Linked DNA regions of Homo sapiens: region 2 is linked to region 1. Evidence: fine-mapped expression QTL. A gene starts in region 1. The other region holds a variant in brackets. All regions are shown on one strand. Distances are between the middles of the regions. Region 1 holds the start of ECE1 (endothelin converting enzyme 1). Region 2 has its middle 32 kb from the start of ECE1-AS1.

Region 1 (5,000 bases):
TAAATATATTTTTATATGTTGGTACCATGAGGTGTTATGATTTTTAATGGCAGCATGTTTCGGAAGTTTCTGACAATGTAGAAGATGCTGAATGAAAAATGCGGGATATAACATTGTGTATTTACAGTGAGCTCAACTATGTTTAAAAATACATACATACAAGTGTGAAAAACTAGAAACCGTTATCTCCAAGTGGCAGGATTACTGCTCCGTTTTTAATTCCTTTTTATACTTGACTATCTTTTTTTCTCCCCCAAGTGAGCATATAAAGCTTTTACACTGGGGAAAAAAAAAAAAACAATGATTGAAAACATTCAATTAATAGAATACTCTGCCTCATAAATGGAGATGAATGGGTCCTTGACTCAGAAAAGCAAGCACTGGCTACTTCATGTTCACTTTGGGGAAGTTGTGGCAACACCACACAAGCCAAGCTGGGTACCCACAAAAATGCCCCAAATCCTTGCATAACCTCTTTGCCTTTTCCTGCAAGGAAAGTGGAAAATGTATCCATTTGGGGACAGGACACTAACTCCAACCATAGACAACAGCGACGTGACCCCAGGAATGTCTCTAACCTCTCTTTGTCCCTCACCTTTATCATCAATAATGTGGCCACGCCAGCCCTTACTTCATGGGTCATAAAACAATAATCCTAGCAGGCTGCATATAATATGTATGACATCCACTTTCTCTAACATCCATTTCACAGTGAGGCCATCACCACTGAAAGAGATTAAGCCACTAGCCCAAGGTCGTGAGTGGAGTAAGAACTCAAACCCGGGTCGCTGGCTTCAGAGACGGGGCTCCTCCTGCTTGGCCGGGGGCCCTCCCCAGAGAAATGTGCTATTTCATCTGAAAAAGGTTATACCCCAAACAGGCTGCTGTGAGGATAACAGCAACATGGCATTATTACTTTGCTGTGAATTCTGAAATGCTTTTGTGTTGATATATTTAGACCCTTCTGTGGAAGATGAGACTGAAAAACATTGCTGATTAGATTCTGTTTTGATTTGAGAAGGGAAAAGCACCTGCCCCAGAAATCTAATTTCCTGCTGGCTTCAGCCTCTTAAGAAGAGTCCACTGGGAAGAGGTTTGAGACAGACAGGGTTTGACGTGTCGCTCTCGGATTTTTAGCTCGGTGACCGAAGGCCAGTGGTTGCCCCTCTCAGAGCCTCAGTTTCCACATCTGTAAGTGGGGACAGTAATCCCTACAGGTCTCAGGGGTGTTCCTGAAGGTTAAGCAGGGGTACCACACATCCCAGTGGGTAGAGCCCTTGGGACTGTGAGTTTGGGTCCCCTGGGCCTATGTGACCCTGGAGGAGGAACTCCATCAATGGTGTCTCCCTGCGCTGGGAGGATTATTCCCGCTTCTAAGAGGCGTATCTGAGTGGAGTGGGCCTGGCAACTAAGCGTCCATTCATCCTAAGCTCGCCTTTGGGAAGAGTTGTGTGCCAGTTCACCAAGTGGCCCCAAGATTCTCCCAAATACTTCCCTTGGTCTACCTGGCAGAAGTCCTCCGAGAATTGGGGTGCCCCAGCTCCTCTTTCTACACTGGCTTCTCAAGAGCCAGATCACTGGGTCTCCTAGGGTGTCCGCAGCGTTTCCAGCACCTTCCCACGCACCTGGCTGGCTCCAAACCCCTCCAGCACTGAGGTCTTGGCCACAACTGTCCCAGTGCAGCCCCCCAGGGACGGGAGGGCAGAAAGCAGCCTTGCTCAATGTCCTGTTACAAGGCAGGGACGGGGGTGGGGCCCTCCCCAGGAGTGGGCAGATGGGATGCCCACGGGCGGAGACCCTGGGGAGGGGAGGAATTGGACTTCCTTAGTAGGCTGGAAAAGGGGCAGGGAGAGGGGGCAGAGAACAGGTTTCTGGCCCCAGGAAACTCAGGTATTGGGAGGGCAAGAGGAAGAGGGTGGTACTGCCTCCCGGATAAGGTGACCAACTTTCCCAGTTTGCCCCGGACTGGGGGAGTGGGTTCCAGGGATGCAGGGCTTTCCACGCTAAAACAGAAACAGCCGTAGACTCTGCCGGTAAAGGGCCTGGGCAAGTCCCGGGACATGCACAAACTGTGCCTTCTGTGGAAAGGGAACTGGACCAGTTCGGGTCTCGGGGGTGCTTTCAACTCTGCCACCTGGGCTGTGGCCCCAGAAGCAGGTGGCCGGGAGGCTCTAGGGATGGCGGGGGCAGGTGAGGGGAGACTGGTGGGCTCCGGAAGGCTTCTCAGCGCGGAGCTCCAGCTGCGGGGAGGCGCGGCCCCTCCCGGATGCCGGGACGAGGGAGGGGAAGGGAGGGGAAGAGGCGGGGTAGGTAGGGGCGGGGGGCGCGGCAGCGGCAGCGCGCATGCCCGGGCCCGGGGCGCCTGGACCTCGGGAGGGAGCGGAGGGCGCCTACCTGCAGGCCGTTGGGGTATGCGTCGCCCTCGGAGAGCGAGTCCACCAGGTCCTCCTCGTCCAGCGTGGCCCGCTTGTACGTCGACATCTGCAAGGCCAAATGCAGCACGGACTCCCTCAGCGCCTCCATGGCTCTCGCGCCCGAATGGGGAAGCGGCCCCGACCCTGGCGCCGCCGCCGCCGCGCCCCGCCCCGGCCTGGACACCCGAGACCGAGACCGGCCCACGGAGCGGCCCGCGCGGGGAGGGGTCCCGCCCGCCTCCCGCCCCCGCCCTCCAGGCCGCGCCCGCCTCACCCCCAGCGCCGACAGCAGGGCGGACACCGGGGGCGGCCACACGCCCCGCATGCTGTGCCCCAGACGCCTGGTCCCGCTGCCCGGGTGGCCGGGATGGGATGGGCCGGGCCAGGCGTTGCACCACCTTCGCGGGCGGGGCCTGATCGGTTCGCCGGCGCCCGGTTCCCAACCTCCGGCCTCCCGGGGAGACCCCAAGACCCGAGAGGCCCGGGGGAGATGGGGACCCCTCCCTTCCCCGGAGGTCGGGAGTGGGGGCCCCCAAACTGAAGCCCCTAGCAGGCAGGAAAGGCCCTCACAGTGACCCCTCCTTCGAGAAAATCTTAAGTCCCCCTTCAACAACCGGGTCCCCAGTGGCAGATAACAAAAGTATCAGGAAGGTGCCCTCGATGTGGCCCAGAGCAATCAAGACAGGTTCCCCCCGGCATCAGCCCTTAGGTGTGTCTAGGGGGTTAATGCTAGAAAGACCAGACAAAAAAGGTGGGGTAAAAAGGTAGGTGTCCCCTTTCAGTTCCCCTTTCTAGCTCAGAGGCCTTTAAGCCAGAGTTCGTGAATGAGTTTCAGAAAATTTCAGAGAACTCCCTGACACGGGATGAAAGGAGCTGTGTGTGTGCATTTGGATGGCTGCAGGGTGGTCCGGTGGTCACCCCCGTGCTCAAAGGTGTCGCCCTCCCTGCAACACAAGAGAACCATTGCTCCAGGGGGAGTCAGAAGCCAGGAAGGGGACCCTTCTTTCCCATCTTCCCCCTCAAGACTCGGAGCCTCAGCCAGGTGCCCCCCTCCCCAGCCCCTGAGCCCTCTCCTATAACCCTAGGCAGGGAAAGGGGGCTCTCTCGGATATGAGGTGTTCAGTTAGGGACTCAGGCCCAGCACTGTCCCAACCAAGAACCCCAGAGAGGTCTAACCCAGCAGATTTCCAAAGGACTCTCCGCTTCTAGCAAGGCGGGAATCCCTGCATTTATGCGTACTTTTCAGCTTTGCAAAGTGCATTTCTGCTCATTCCAAATTTGATTCTCACAGTCACACATATGTGTGAATAAACAGGTTTAGAGGGGTGAGGGGCCTGACGTCACAGGGACAGTGAGGGCAATGGCTCCAGATGGTCTCCTGGCTTCCACTCCTGCCCTCTGACAGCCCCCTCAGCAGCCAGGATGAGCCTTTAAAATGAAATCTGGCTGAGGCCAGGCACCATGGCTCGCTCGCGCCTGTAATCCCAACACTTTGGGAGGCCAAGTTGGGTAGATCACTTGAGGTCAGGAGTTCAAGACCAGCCTGGCCAACATGATGAAACCCCATCTCTACTAAAAATACAAAAAATCAGCTGGGCCTGGTGGCATGCATCTGTAATCCTAGCTACTCAGGAGGCTGAGGCAGAAGAATCGCTTGAACCCAGGAGGTCGAGGTTGCAGTGAGCTGAGATTGTGCCACTGTACTCTAGCCTGGGTGACAGAGTGAGACTCCATCTCAAACAAACAAACCACAGAAATCTGGCTGGGTTCAGTGGTTCACACCTGTAATCCCAGCACTTTGGGAGGCTGAGGCAGGAGATCACTTGAGTCTAATTCTAGGCCAGCCTGGGCAACACGGACCCCATCTCTACAAAAAGAAAATATATATATATATATTTATATATTATATATTTTTAATTAGCAGGACGTGGTGGTATGCGCCTGTAGTCCCAGCTACTTGGGAGGCTTAGGTGGGAGAATCGCTTGAAGCCAGGAGGTGGCGGCTACAGTGAGCTGTGATTGCACCACTGCACTCCAGCGTGGACGACACAACAAGATCTTGTCTGAGTAAATAAATAAAATAAAAAAAAATTCTGATATTACCACTCCCTTGCTTAAAAACCCTCCACTGTCCTGGAATGAAATCCAAACCCTTCACCAGGCCCCATGGCCCCTGCCCACTCTGGGCCCTCATCTTGTGCTGCCAGCGCCCCCTCCCCCACCAACCTCCTCACACAACTCCTCAGTTTCTACAAGTTTCTTCTTCCCCCAAGACCTTTGTAGCTGCTGTTGTCTCTATCTGGAACATTTTTTCCTCCTCTCTACTCTTCCCATGGTCAGCTCCAACTTCAGATCTCAGCCTACCAGCTCCTCAAATGTCCCAGGAACCCTAAGCAGTCCCCCAAATTCTCTGTTACAGCATCCTGTTTGTTTTCCTTTACAGTACTTGTTGCAGACTGTTTTGTTTCCATGTCTTTATCATCACTGTCTCTGTCCCTCTCCAGAATCCACAGCTTTACTGGGGCTGGGACCTTGTCTGGCCTGTCCAACAGAGACTCTCCATCACCCGGCACAGAGTAGGTGCTC
Region 2 (5,472 bases), 35 kb after region 1:
TGGAGGGAGGGCAGGTCCCAGGGCTCAGGGGTTGGGGTCATTTCCAAAAACAAGGCTGCTTACACTTTCCCAAAGCACCCACATGGCAGAGGAGAGTCAACCTGTGCCCTGGCAGGACTGAGGACACAGCTAAAAGCTGTGAAAAAAGCTTAAGTCTCATTTCCTTTTGAATCTCAAAAATTCATGCCAATTCTGCATTCTGCTCCAAAATAGTACCTTTTTATTTTATGATGCAAGTACCCTACTCTGATCCCCAGGGCAATCTCACACACTGGTATGAGAAGCTCAAATATAAAAATTAAGCATGAAACCTCAAGAGTGGATAAGCTGACCTTGAGGGCGTAGGTGGAGAAAGGCCCTAGCCTCCCAGAACAACACAGCTGGAACCGGCGGGGGGAGGGTTATGGATCAAAATACACAATAGCCCTGACTGCAGGCCGGATACTCTGCCAGGGGCTCACATCCATTCACTCATTCATTTTCCTCTTACCCTCTTTAAAATCGTGTGCCTACTACGTGTTAGCACTGTTCTCGACAGATATAGCAGGAAACAAAACAGACAAAATCCTTGCCTTTGGGCCAAGTGCAGTGTTCATGCCTGTAACCCCAGCACTTTGGAAGGCTGAGATGGGAGGATCACCTGAGCCTGGGAGTTCGAGACTGCAAAGAGCTGTGATTGTGCCACTGCACTCCAGCTTGGGTAACGGAGTGGCACCCCGTCCCAAAAAACTAAAAATAAAATAAAATAAAATAAAATAAAATAAAATAAGCCTTGCCTTCATGAAACTTATATGCTAGTAGGAGACAGAATAAATAAGACAAATCAAATATGCAGCATGTTAGACTGTGGGAGGGGCTAAGGGGAGCAATGAGGTAGTGAAGGGAGACAGAAAATGGGAGATGGGGGCAATTTTCTTTCTTTTTTTTTTTTTTTTGAGACATAGTTTCACTCCATTGCCCAGGCTGGAGTGCAATGGTGCAATCTCGGCTCACTGCAACCTCCACCACCCGGGTTTCAAGCTATTTTCCTGCCTCAGCCTCCTTGAGTAGCTGGGATTACAGGTATGCACCACCATGCCCGGCTAATTTTTTTGTATTTTTAGTAGAGATGGGTTTTTGCCATGTTGGTCTGGCTGACCTCAAACTCCTGACCTCAAGTGATCCACCTGCCTCAGCCTCCCAAAGTGCTGGGATTACAGGCATGAGCCACTTCACCCGGCCTGTTTTGTTTTTAAAGAGACAAGGTCTCACTCTGTTGCCCAAGCTGGAGTGCGGCCTTGACCATAGCCCATGCAGCCTCGACCATAGCTCATGCAGCCTTGACCTCCTGGGCTCAAGCGATCCTCTTGCCTCAGCCTCCCAAGTAGCTGGGACTACAGATGTGCACCACCACACCCGGGCTCATATAGCTTCTTAACTGGGTGGGCAGAGGAAGCAGGGGGCAGAGGCCCATCCCCAAGGGAGAAACCATCCATCAGTGCGGGACTGACAGGGACACTCCACCCACTCAGCCCAGTGTGCTTCTGTCCAGGGAGACTCCAACGGCTGCCACAGCTGTGGTTTACTGACTTCAGGTCTGACTGCCCTCTCCAGAGCTGCCCTAGAATCCCTTTGTCTGTGGCTGAAGTGTCCCTCAGAGCTGAGGAACAAGTTTGGAGAGGACCAGGAGGGGCTCTCCCCACCCCCGCCCCTTTCCCACATGAAGAGAAACATTTCAGGGTTGAAAAAATGACTCATTCTCCCCAGAGAGGGCTGGAGCTGAGCTGAGTCAGGCAGAAGGAGCCCGCGGGTCACTTAATCGGCCTCCCTGCTCTGGCAGAGATGGCTCTGGGCCCCAGGAAGCCAGGGACAAATGGAGGCGGAGGTGGCAGAGATAAGCAGCTAGTGGAGTGTGCCAGCCTCTCCTTCCCCAACCGAGTGTGTCACTGGGCGTCACCCAGCACTGCTCAAGTTGAACCTGATGCAGAAGAAAAATTCCTCTGGACTTTCCTGAACGAGCTTTATGGCTGACTCACTGCCACCTGGAGCCTGCAAGAAAAGTCACAAATCACGAAAGAAGGAGAAAAACAGTTCTCGTTAAGCCATGTCTTCAATGGAGGTATCAGAGGTCGCCAGGAGGAAAGCACA[CAT/C]GTTTTGTTGTGGGTTTCCTTCTCTAAAGAAACACGTTACACAATAGAGGGGGGTTGAGACTGGTTGCAAAACTGCAAAATCCAATTTTGTGTACTGGATTCAATTTCTTCATTAGCTGACACTAAACACAGAGACGGGGCCCTTGTGACTAGATGAACCATAAACTGGCTCCAGGACCACCAACCTGGTACCTGATGGCTTGTTTCTGCTCCCCACTCTTTCCCTCCATGCATCTTTCTCTGAGCTTCTGCTCAAGGCAGGTGCCAGGACAAGCCAGCGTCTCGAGCGGTTCCCCTTCAGCGGTGAGAAGTAACGTCACAATTAAGGGGCAAGAGGGGCCAGAGGACAGAACAGTGCCAGTTCCTCATCCAGATTGAAATTTGCTTCCAGCTGCCTGTCCCCACACCAGAAAGGGCACTCCCTGCTCCCCATGCAGGCTTCTCATCCTCTTTTGCTGGCCTCCTCCCTCCTCGCTGTCCCTGGTCTTTTTCAGCCACAAGCAAAACACACTCAGCCTTGAAGTCAGATGCTCTACAGAAGCCTGCAAAAACAGAGTCAGGAGTTGTGTGGCCTTGGCCGAGTCACCTCACCTCACCAAGCCTCAGCCTCCTCACCTATTAAATGGGGACACAATAGGACCCACTTCCTTGGAGCTGACTGAGGTATGAATTGAGTCAATGCATTCATTGCTCAGCACACAGCTTAGCTCAAAGTTAATGCTCAATAAATTGTGGTTCCCACCTCCTGCTCCACGGAGCAGACATGAAACAGGTACGAGAAGCAACGAGAAGGGGCGGCAGCAGAGCATCAACACACAGGGAGTCCTGCCTACTGTCCCGACGCCACCCAGAGGCTCAAGGGGTGCCCCGGCTGCTCTCCGAAGCTGCCGGTGGCACTTTCGCCAGCCACCTTGTTTCCAAACTTGCTGCCAGCTTCCCCTAGCGCAGTGATTTCCACAACGGAGCTCCCGGCTGTGGGAAGGGGGCTTTCTTTGACTTGTCCTAAAATGGCCTCACCTGGACCCAGTGGGGTGTGGGGACCAGGGGGCTGGGCCTGGACCTATGAGCATGTTTCCTGCCTCCTCTCAGCCCCCATCCTTCTGCCGCCCCACGTTCTCAGCCAACAATAGCTGCTTCCCAGACTCAGCTGCCACACAGCACGAGCTCCCTGAGCAAAAATACCCATGCGGGGGAGGGTGGGGAGGTACAGGAGGGGCCACAAATGGGGAGGGCTGGGAGAAGGGGTGGCAGGATCAAGCTTGTCTCTTGAGTGCCTACTGTGTGTCAAGCTGAGAAGGGTGAAGCCCCTGGGGGTTAGAGAAACCTGGGAGACCGTGGGGTGTGTGTGTCGGGGGTGCTGGTCTCTAAGACAGCAGAGCCTCCAGTCCCCAGAGAGGGATCAGACCCAGGTCCAGGGTCTAAGGGTGAAGAAGGGGTCCAGGGAGAAGAAGGTGCCTAAGCAGGAAGCAGGTCCTAGAACCTAGTGAGAAAAAAGGGGGGCCTGAACCCCAAAGAGAGATCCAAATCTTAAGGAAAATAGGGGCTCAGGTTCGAGGAGATGAGGTTCATAATAGGGGGGTTATATTTCTGGTTTCAGGAGGGGGATGGTTTGGAGCAGCGTAGGGAGGTGGGGCGAGGCCTGCAGAGCTAAGAATCCATTTAACTGAGCAGCATCTCAGAGGTCTTAGGTGCCAACTGGGGTGACATCAGGGAAGAAAACAGAAATCCTAAGACAGCAGCCAGCAGCCTGCAGTTACGGAGCCTGGATGGGGAAGCAGCTCCCCGCTGCTGGGGAGACCCCACTGAGCACAGAGAGGGTCTCCCCAGCCTTTGGCCCCTGCGTCTCCTTTCTCTTCATGACAGGGCATCAGCTCGGGTCCCTGGAAACACCCCCGCTCCCCAGCAAGGGGCTGTGTTTGCACAGTGGCTCTGGCCCCTAAACCCCACCTCTGTGGACTCCGTCAAAGCCTGGGGAGGGCAGGGTCCTGAGGGCCCTGGTCTCGCTGGGGTCGCATAGGTCACATGGAAAGAATTTGGAGGTCACAGCACTGCCCTCCCTGTAGATGCTTCAAAGCACCCCACTCCCTTGAAGCTGCCAGACTCTGCAGGCAGCAGGGCATGGGGAGGGACGAAGCCACCAGGAGACTGGGAAGAGGGACTCTGCCAGAGCAGCTGCCAGGAATCTGGGGCCTGGAGTCCATGTTTGGCTGGAAGGCCCTGGGATGGGAGGCTCCAGCTTAGCGTCTGGCTCTAACGCTTGGACTGTGTGACTCCGGTGGCTCATGCAACCTTTCTGGGCTCTGTTTTCTCATTTGTCAAAGCGACGGGCTGATCCCCTGCCCCACTCCAATCAATCACCAGGCCCTGCCCACTCTACTCAGTTTCTCTGTCTGCCTCTCCCTCACCACTACCACTGGCCTGGGCAAAGCCACCACCATTTTCTGATGCCACTCTTGCCCTCCCCACTCAAGTCAAGTTGGATCATCTTAGCTCCCTGCTGACACCCCTTCGAGAACCGGGAGACCTCCACCCTGCTTGTTACACATTTTTGCCTTTTCTTACTTTGAGGGCACAAATGGAGTCTTTTGGTATAGAGGAAAATAAAGCCTCACCTGGTCTGCACGGCCCTGCGGGACCCAGCCCTGACCACCCTTCAGCTTCACCCTTCCTCTCTACTCCAGCTACACAGCTGGGGTCCCCAGCCCCCCGGGCCTCAGACCAGTACCAGTCCATGGCCTGTTAGGAACCGGGCCGCACAGCAGGAGGTGAGCTGTGGGTGGACATTACCGCCTGAGCTCTGCCTTCGGTCAGATCAGCGGTGGCATTAGATTCTCGTAGGAGCGCGAACCCTATTGTGAACTGCACGTGCGAGGGATCTAGGCTGTGCATTCCTATGAGAATCTATGAGAATCTAACTAAGGTGATGAATCTAACTAACATGAACTGAGGTGGAACAGTTTCATGTACCTCAGATCATCGGGCTTAGTTAGATTCTCATAAGGGAAACCATTCTTCACACCCTGTCCATGGAAAAATTGTCTTCCACGAAGCCTGGCACCAAAAAGGTTGGAGATTGCTGCTATAGGTCACTCACCCCAGGACCTTTGCACATGCTGTTCTCACAGCCTAGACTCTTTTTCTCTCCATTTATTTGCCTGGTTAACACTTAACACATCTTTCAGATCTCTTCTCAAATCCTTCTTCCTCAGGGATGTCTTCCCTGCTCCTGCTCTCTGCCAGGGATGGCTCCTCTGACATAAACTCCCATAGCAACCTGCTTATAGTTAGAGATCTGTGCAACTGTCCAAGACCATGCCTGCTTGCTAACCATTCTAGACCTTGT

The links. PIP is the estimated chance that this variant, and not a neighbour inherited with it, causes the effect.
Region 2: its variant is fine-mapped to the expression of ECE1 in whole blood (TOPMed, PIP above 0.99).

What each region holds. Positions count from the first base shown.
Region 1 is chr1:21,287,676-21,292,675 of GRCh38, forward strand. ECE1 (endothelin converting enzyme 1) reads right to left here and starts at 2,788. Exons shown (of 19, transcript NM_001397.3): 1 at 2,689-2,788; 2 at 2,395-2,481. The coding sequence starts at 2,739. RefSeq lists an enhancer at 1,232-1,793 and silencers at 2,470-2,639, 2,690-2,869.
Region 2 is chr1:21,322,901-21,328,372 of GRCh38, forward strand. It overlaps a transcript of ECE1 not described here. Among named protein-coding and RNA genes, the nearest start is that of ECE1-AS1, 32 kb to the left of the region's middle. RefSeq lists enhancers at 817-1,377, 4,740-5,298. The variant CAT/C (reference allele first, on the strand shown) is at 2,128.